2 linked regions of the Homo sapiens genome follow. The protein of the gene in region 1 interacts with the protein of each later gene in a pairwise test. Each region holds a gene or a part of one and is shown on either strand. Other genes may lie near its edges.

Region 1 (3,830 bases):
ATGGTTTGTATTATTGGTGATAACAATAAATGGAGACTACTTTTCTGTTGCCTTTAGCTTTTCCTTCCTCTTATAGTCACCTAAGAAAGTTTCAGAATGTCCATTATCATACTAAGTTTTTAACATGAAGACCAATTTTATTTCAAACCGAGGGTTTCTGTGGACCGAGAACCACCATAAATACATTTCAAACATATCTGAATATACAAAAGCGAAGTACAGATTATAAGTATAATATGATGCATGAAATAGATCTATGATCACTATGGTGTGAAGTTGTGGTCGTTCTGTCTAGATGATCCAGATGGTCTTCATCAACTAGACGGGACTCCTTTAACCGCTGAAGACATTGTCCATAAAATCGCTGCCAGGATTTATGAAGAAAATGACAGAGCCGTGTTTGACAAGATTGTTTCTAAACTACTTAATCTCGGCCTTGTAAGTCATTTGGTAGGAAATAAACCAAATTCCTAGTGCAGTTTAGAGTATGCCAAGAAGCCAAGTCACTTGCCTCAAGTAGCCAAGTGTTTATAATGTGTCTTCCTTCTACTAGGACCCGTAGGTTTTAAGGACAAGCAAAGCACCATTCTTTTTTTTCTAGGAGTTTATCATCCATCAGAAGAACTAGGCAAGTAGACACACGCCCAAAATGCCAGCTGCTTAAAAACCATAAGAGCCAGAGAATAGCTTATATCCAACTGGCAGTAAGGAAAGGCTTCAGAGGAAGAGGCGTATGAAGGAAGCTTAGAGGGATGGTTAGGATATAACCAGCAGAGGTAAAAGACATGTATGTGACAAAAAAAGAAATAACATGAGCAAAAGCATGTGATGTGTATTTTTGAAACTCCAGGTGATCTAATTTGAATCCACCTCAGCTTGGCTCTTCTGCCCTGACCTGGCCCTGACAGGCTTTATTAAGATGCTAATTTTGTAGGATGTCAAAGGTTATCTGACTATGACCCAAAGCTGTGGAGGGGCAATGCTCAGGGTGTTTCTCAAAATATGTGGTCCATGGGTTTCAACAGATAGAACTAACAGCTTGCATGGTGGGCCCGAAGATACTTCTTCCAGGAGTGCTGAGCAATCCCTATAACAGCCAGCATGTGGTGCAGGCGTAAGTGAGGGCTGTCTGAAAGATGGTTCAGAAGATTCCTCTTTAAAAAATACATGTTTGACTACAGTTTAGTCCACATTATTTTTTAATAACAAGACTGGGAATATAGCAGTTATATATGTTTTGCCTTTTTATGATAGATCACAGAAAGCCAAGCACATACACTGGAAGATGAAGTAGCAGAGGTTTTACAAAAATTAATCTCAAAGGAAGCCAACAATTATGAGGAGGATCCCAATAAGCCCACAAGCTGGACTGAGAATCAGGCTGGAAAAATACCAGAGAAAGTGGTATGTATGTGTATATATGCATATGCATGGGGGTGTGTGTGTGTGTGTGTGTGTGTGTGTGTGTACTTCTATCTGTATAATAATTGCCTTACTTGATACCAAAGAAGATTTGAGGTATGTGGCATTTTTAGCCCATTTATATTCAGGCCAGACATGTTGGCTCAAACCTGTAATCCCAGCACTTTGAGAGGCTGAGGTGGGAGTTGAGACCAGGAGTTCAAGACTAGACCTGGCAACATAATGAGACCCCCATCTCTACAAATAAAAATAATTAGCTGGGTGTGGTGGCACAAGCTTATAGTCTCAGCTACTCAGGAGGCTGAGAGGAAGATCGCCTGAGGCCAGGTGTTTGAGGTTGCAGTGAACTATGATTGCACCACTGCATACCGGTCTGGGTGACAGAGTGAGACCCTGTCTCAAAAAATTAATTAATTAATTAATTTAAAAATATGTATATACATAAAATACCAAAAAGTTAAAAGATATAAATGATCTCTACTCTGAAAATAATGTAAAGATTATGTTATATTCTATTATTTGGTAAAGATTACATCTTATACCCCACAGTAAAATAATACATAATAATATGTGAAGTAACAATATCACATAATAACATCTGTGTGTACAGTCCCAGTGAACTGCAAGCAAACATCTCACAGTTCTTTTGGTATCCAACATCTGTTCACAGCAGATGTCATCATCTGTGCCCAATCCCCCCACAAAGAAGTGGGTTGACTAGATCTTCTGCTACACCAGCTTTTGTGTTCCCCAGAGCTAGCTGCCTAATGCTGCCTCTCTGTTCTTGGCAATGCTCTTCCACCTGCTCCTTCCCCTTTTCATTGGTTTAGATGCCTATTTACCCAGGCTAATTTCATCCTTCCTTCCCTTTGTTGGACTCCTTGCGTCTTCATTTTTTCCTTAGCACCAACCAAGCTGTTGAGATCTTTCTCCCCACCTTGAATTCTCTTTAAAACTTTAGATGAAACTGACCATAAGGGGATATCAAATTCCTCATCTGTCCTTTGATTTTCCTCTGTAAAGCACCCAGACCCATGGCTCCTCATCTCCTCCAGCATCTTATCTCAAATACAAAGACTATAGAGGCTGATGGTTCTGTTTTAGAGAGGAGAGAAAATAGAAATTGGGTCTGGATTTCTTTTTTTTTTTTACTGGATAGCCTAAAAACTTTCCTCTGCTCTCCTTACTTCCAATCCTCACCAGCTGCCATCTTTTAAAGCAGCTTTTGAAGATTCACCCACTCAAAAAAAAAGTTCTAGATTTATCAAAAAAAAAAACCCTTATGACTTTTGCTCAAGCTTACCAGTCTGAGCTAAAATGGACACAGCTATTTCCATAATTCTTCATTCCCATTACATACTCCTATTCACCTATCTCTAAAATGTTCATATGCTTGACCTGTTTACTCATGTTACCTGAATGCATCAATGCAAATAAAACACAAATGAAATATTATTTCAACAAATATTTATTGAATACTAACTCTGTACCAAGCACTGGAAATACCATGCCTATTTAAAAAGACATAATCCCTGACTCATGAAGCTCAAAGTCTAGTGGAAGAGGTAGATCATGTTTAAATCATCATGTATTTTCATTACAATTGCATTAAGTGCTCTGAGGAAAGAAACATGGTTCTATGAGACCTCAAAAAAGGAGGCTGACCTGGACTTAGGCTCAGGAAATGCTTCCCTAAGGAAGTAACTTGAGCTGAGAACCGAAGATCAAATAGGAGTTAACTTGTGAACATGAGAGGCAGCACATAGAGAAGGATGTGTGGAGTATCCAAGCAACTGAAACAAGCACAGTGTTGCTGGCACAGAAAGAAAGAGCAAAAAGAGAAGAGACTGGGGAGGTGGACCCAGGCCAGACCATGCAGCGCCTTATGAGCCATGGATGGACTCTGATCTTTATTGTAAGAACCATGAGAATTTTCTGGTCCCCTGAAGAATTTTAAGCAAAGGAGTTACATGATCAGATTGTTAAAAAGATAACTCTGGCTATAATGTGGAAACGCAGTATTGGGCATAGATTTGGGGAGGGTGATGTTGCAGTTAGCAGGTGAGAAATGAAGGCTGCTTGGACTAGAGTGGCATAGTGGAGGGAGAAATGTGCAAATTTGGGATAAATTTTGAAAGTGGGGCCAACAAGGCTACTGATGGATTGGATGGGGGAAAAGGAAGAAGAGGCAAGAAAGGCTGTTAAATTTCTATCTAGTTCACTGAATGGAGAATGAACCATTTACTAAGATGCAAGTCACTGAACAAAAACCAGGTCTGAGAGAAAGATTTTGTACACTCATCCAGACAGCACTTAAACTTTACCCAAAAATTCCCAGGTGTGACTGCTCTGCTAGGGATAGACATTCTAACAGGCTTTCCTGTATCCTGGCACCAGCCCTCCTGGTG
Region 2 (3,830 bases), on another chromosome or scaffold:
TCCTTTAAAAGCCTCTAATTTCCACTGCAAGATTAATGTATAATGAAGTAAGGTTAGAATGTTATTGTGAAGTCTGAATTTAATTGTCAATGAAAGAAAATGCTGTAATTCTGTAACTTTTGCAATTATTTTTCCTTTGTGTTCAAAACTTGGTCACAGGCTTTGTAATCATAAATCTCAAGTGATAACTTCAGTTTCTGATTAACTGCATTTGCTGTTTGGATCTTTGTATATTCAAATTTCCAAACTGTTGTATGTATGGATTGCTTTCGTGAGAGTTTTTACATTTTTGAAACCACTTCCTTCTTCCTTTAAAAATTAAACAAGTATGATTAATAAGCATTTTTCCTGGATGTTCACATATGTAAGATAGAAGCACTGTTATACTAAAACCTAAAGTAAGAATAATGCTATTCATCTCTCTTGCAATGCAGTTCAAACGTACCACTTAGAACACTTACCTAAGCCAAAATCGTGAGGAAAGGAGGGGTGAATTGCCCAGTTGATCAGTTAAAGCAGTCATCTGCTTACAGTTATTCTCTTTGGTGAAGTGCTAGTAAGTCATTGTACATTACAGCAATGTACCTTCTAAAAATAGAGCACAGGTGTGTGAGTGTCTACTAGTTTGAAGATTACAGGAGAGAGCTCCACAAACTCATCTTCTGTCGGGGCTGTTACATGGCTCCAGCCTCTCTCGTATGCTTTTTCTATCTGCTGTGCTCTAATTCTTTGATATCAGCCTCTCTGTGCAAAGTTTCTATTAAATCGACTGGGTCTTCTTTTGCACTTGGGGAAGATGTAATGTAAAGGCTAATGTAAATTAATATCTTTATTGTCAGAGTAACCCAGAGGATTTCCCTCACTACTTCATATCAAAGGAGTTAGGCAGAGTATTTTCTCACTTTTAATGCAGAATCGGAGCCCATAGAGCAAGAAGGGAAGTTGGTGGGTCCCGAGAGTGTCAGATGAGTCTTTTCAATGACACAGGGAGCTAATTTTCTCCCCGAGGTACTGTCCTACTAGAGAAGCAATTAATGGAACAAAAGAACCTCATTCAGTACCAAAAGTTAGACTTCATATGATTTTGTAAATAGAATGGCCTTCTTTCAAAAATAGGACTAGTTTGCAATGAAACTGAGAAATGAGCTACAGAGATTGAGGCTAGTAACCAAGCTGAACAGTGTAATTTGTTTTTGCCTGTCCTCGTGTGGAAGCAGTGCAAATAGTAACAGGATCGACAATCTGAAGACTCTGGAACTGGTCCTCCTGCATTCTCTGTCTTTTAACATTTGGGAAATCATTGTAACTTATCTCTTTTCAGGGTCATCTCTCACAGCAATGAATTTTTGAGAGCATGAAGAAAAGTGCTCAATAACTATAGAGTGATTCTAAATTGCCCTATTTCCCCCCAAAATGAAATTAATCCCTTGAGTGTTGATATGTGCAAAATTAATTTAATAATTTGAATATACTTCTGAAGGGACTATCATTGTTTTTCAAATTTTGTTGTCCTAAATTTTAAATTTATTGTTCCCTTTATACAATCCCAATTAAACTGAGGATAGGCCTATTTAAAAGATTATAAATTTGTTTTAATTTTCCAAATTACATGATATGAGAACACTTTAAGATGCAACCAGTGCTTTTATGCTTTTATTAAATGTAAAATTCCTGCACTTTATAGAGCCAAGCTATCTCTAATTGTTCAACAAATAAAAGTGCTTCTCTCTGGTGCTCTTTTAAATATTTTAATAACTTTTAACAATTTACAGTTATAATAAGAGTACTAATCACAAATAGATATCAACATATTTCCTAGTTTTCTATGTTCACTTGTGCCACTAAGGATCCATCAAACATTACCAGACATTTTAGAAAGCTGTGAAGTAATGAAACATCTTGAATTTAAATCAAGATGTTTGAATTTAAATCATTAAGAAAGATAATGGGGAATTTTGAGAATATTTATAAGCATGGCAATCAAAACATTATAGTTTGAAGAATTTCAGGTCCATTGATCAAATCTTTCTTGGCTCCATTTGATTTATTACAACTCACAGGGATGAAGAAAATTCATTGGATTTGGAGTCAGAAGACCTAGGCTACTAAGAGTCTCTTAACCTTGAAGAAGCAACTTATGCTCTTAGAACCACTATTTGCTTATTTGAAAATTTGATATTATAAAATCTGGCCAGTTGACCTTGATGCTCGGCCATGAGGAGCAATTGTAACAATAAATATGTGTAGGCAGGCACCTTACCAAATGTCAACCCTACTATGCTAGGCTTTGTTTATATTTTTTAATAATGTGTATACAGATTAATTTGTGGCTTATAAACATTTATTTAGTTTTAAAAAATCATCATAAGCTGCTCTGTGATTAGAAAAAAATATCAAGGGGACAGAGATTACTTAAGTTATTGATAAGGGCGACTCATTCATCATTTATTCATTTATCTAACATTTACAGAATACCTGCCCTGTCCCAGACACCTCATTAGACAGCATTACTAGGAATGGTTGCGTAGATTGTGTGAAGAACAACTCCAGGGGGCGTCACTTATTGTCCTAGTGATGCAACACATATTTATTTTTACAATTTGCCAGCAGATGGCAGTAAAAGGTTTTGAGGAATGATGCGCTTTTTTTTGTATCATGAATCCTTTCTATGGACCAACATCAGGCTGGTGTTAAACACCAAGAGGCTTAGGATGGGCACATAATGAAGATAAATGACTTACTAAAGATCAAACAGAAAAGTAAAAAGGTTAGTTACTAGAGCTCCAGTCTCCAAACTCTTCAGTTCTCCTAACACCAAACTTGTTCATAGATTTTATTTAAATGAATCTAATATATCTTCAGCTCAAAGTAAAATATATTTAAATTCTGTGCCATTTTGTCAGATAATCAAATAACAAGCACTTTTTGAGGCCTTAAAATGAGAATATTATCAGCACCTTCTAACAGTACCGACCACTTGTGCGAAGTGCTTTCAGTCACCTTATAACTTATGATTACCAATGAGTCAAGAGACAATTAGCTTTGTTTTATGGATGAAGAAATTGAGGTACAGAAGAATGATCCGATTTGCCTATATCACTTATTTTTGTAGTTATCTGGAACTGGGAGTAGATTTTCCAACTTCCAGTTGCATACCTATTTTTGATATATTGTTGATTCATTTGTTTAAAAATTTGCATGTGTGTGGAAAATTCAATGTTGATAATTACAAAAACAAATAATATAAATTTAAAAAGCCAAATAAGCATGAGGGAGATATATAACTTGTTCAACAAAATATTATAAAATGACAAAATATGTCATATAATTAATTAAACACTAAGTAGTCTGAGTCCTTAGCGGTTTAGTGCCTAGAATGAGCTAAAATTGATTGTGTTTACTAACTGACAGGCTCTCTTATCATAATCCTCTATTAGCTTGTTATTATTACGATTATCGTTCCTTTATCCATGAGGGCCATGAGATACAGGGAGTTTAAATAACTAAGATTGTACTGCTTGGAAATGAGGGTTTGCATATGGGACATGTCCAAAGCCTAGCCTCTTACCAGGACATCACCTTGCCATTCAGTGAAACAGAAAGGGCTTCAATATAGTGAGAGTAAATGGAGAAGATTATTAATACAAGGAGAAAAAAAATGAGTGAACAAATTGTAAGAAGGGAGGGGCGCGTTGAGAGAATAGAAATAATCCAGTTTAATGAATCCAAGGATTCACTAAGCAGTTTGGAAAGGTGAGCCTCTGCACTCAGTTCTGGAAATAGTGGTGGAAGTGGAAGATAGAGTGACCTGGAGGCCAAGCTGGTTTGAC

What was found.
Region 2: the proteins of SCG3 (region 1) and NCAM2 interact in a two-hybrid assay, tested with the Homo sapiens proteins (one large-scale study listed by BioGRID and IntAct).

What each region holds. Positions count from the first base shown.
Region 1 is NC_000015.10:51,687,965-51,691,794, forward strand, and holds part of SCG3 (secretogranin-3 isoform 1 precursor), read left to right. Parts: intron 1-295; coding exon 296-438; intron 439-1,254; coding exon 1,255-1,404; intron 1,405-3,830. UniProt on the Homo sapiens protein: Member of the granin protein family that regulates the biogenesis of secretory granules. Acts as a sorting receptor for intragranular proteins including chromogranin A/CHGA. May also play a role in angiogenesis.
Region 2 is NC_000021.9:21,001,321-21,005,150, forward strand, and holds part of NCAM2 (neural cell adhesion molecule 2 isoform 2 precursor), read left to right. Parts: intron 1-3,830. UniProt on the Homo sapiens protein: May play important roles in selective fasciculation and zone-to-zone projection of the primary olfactory axons.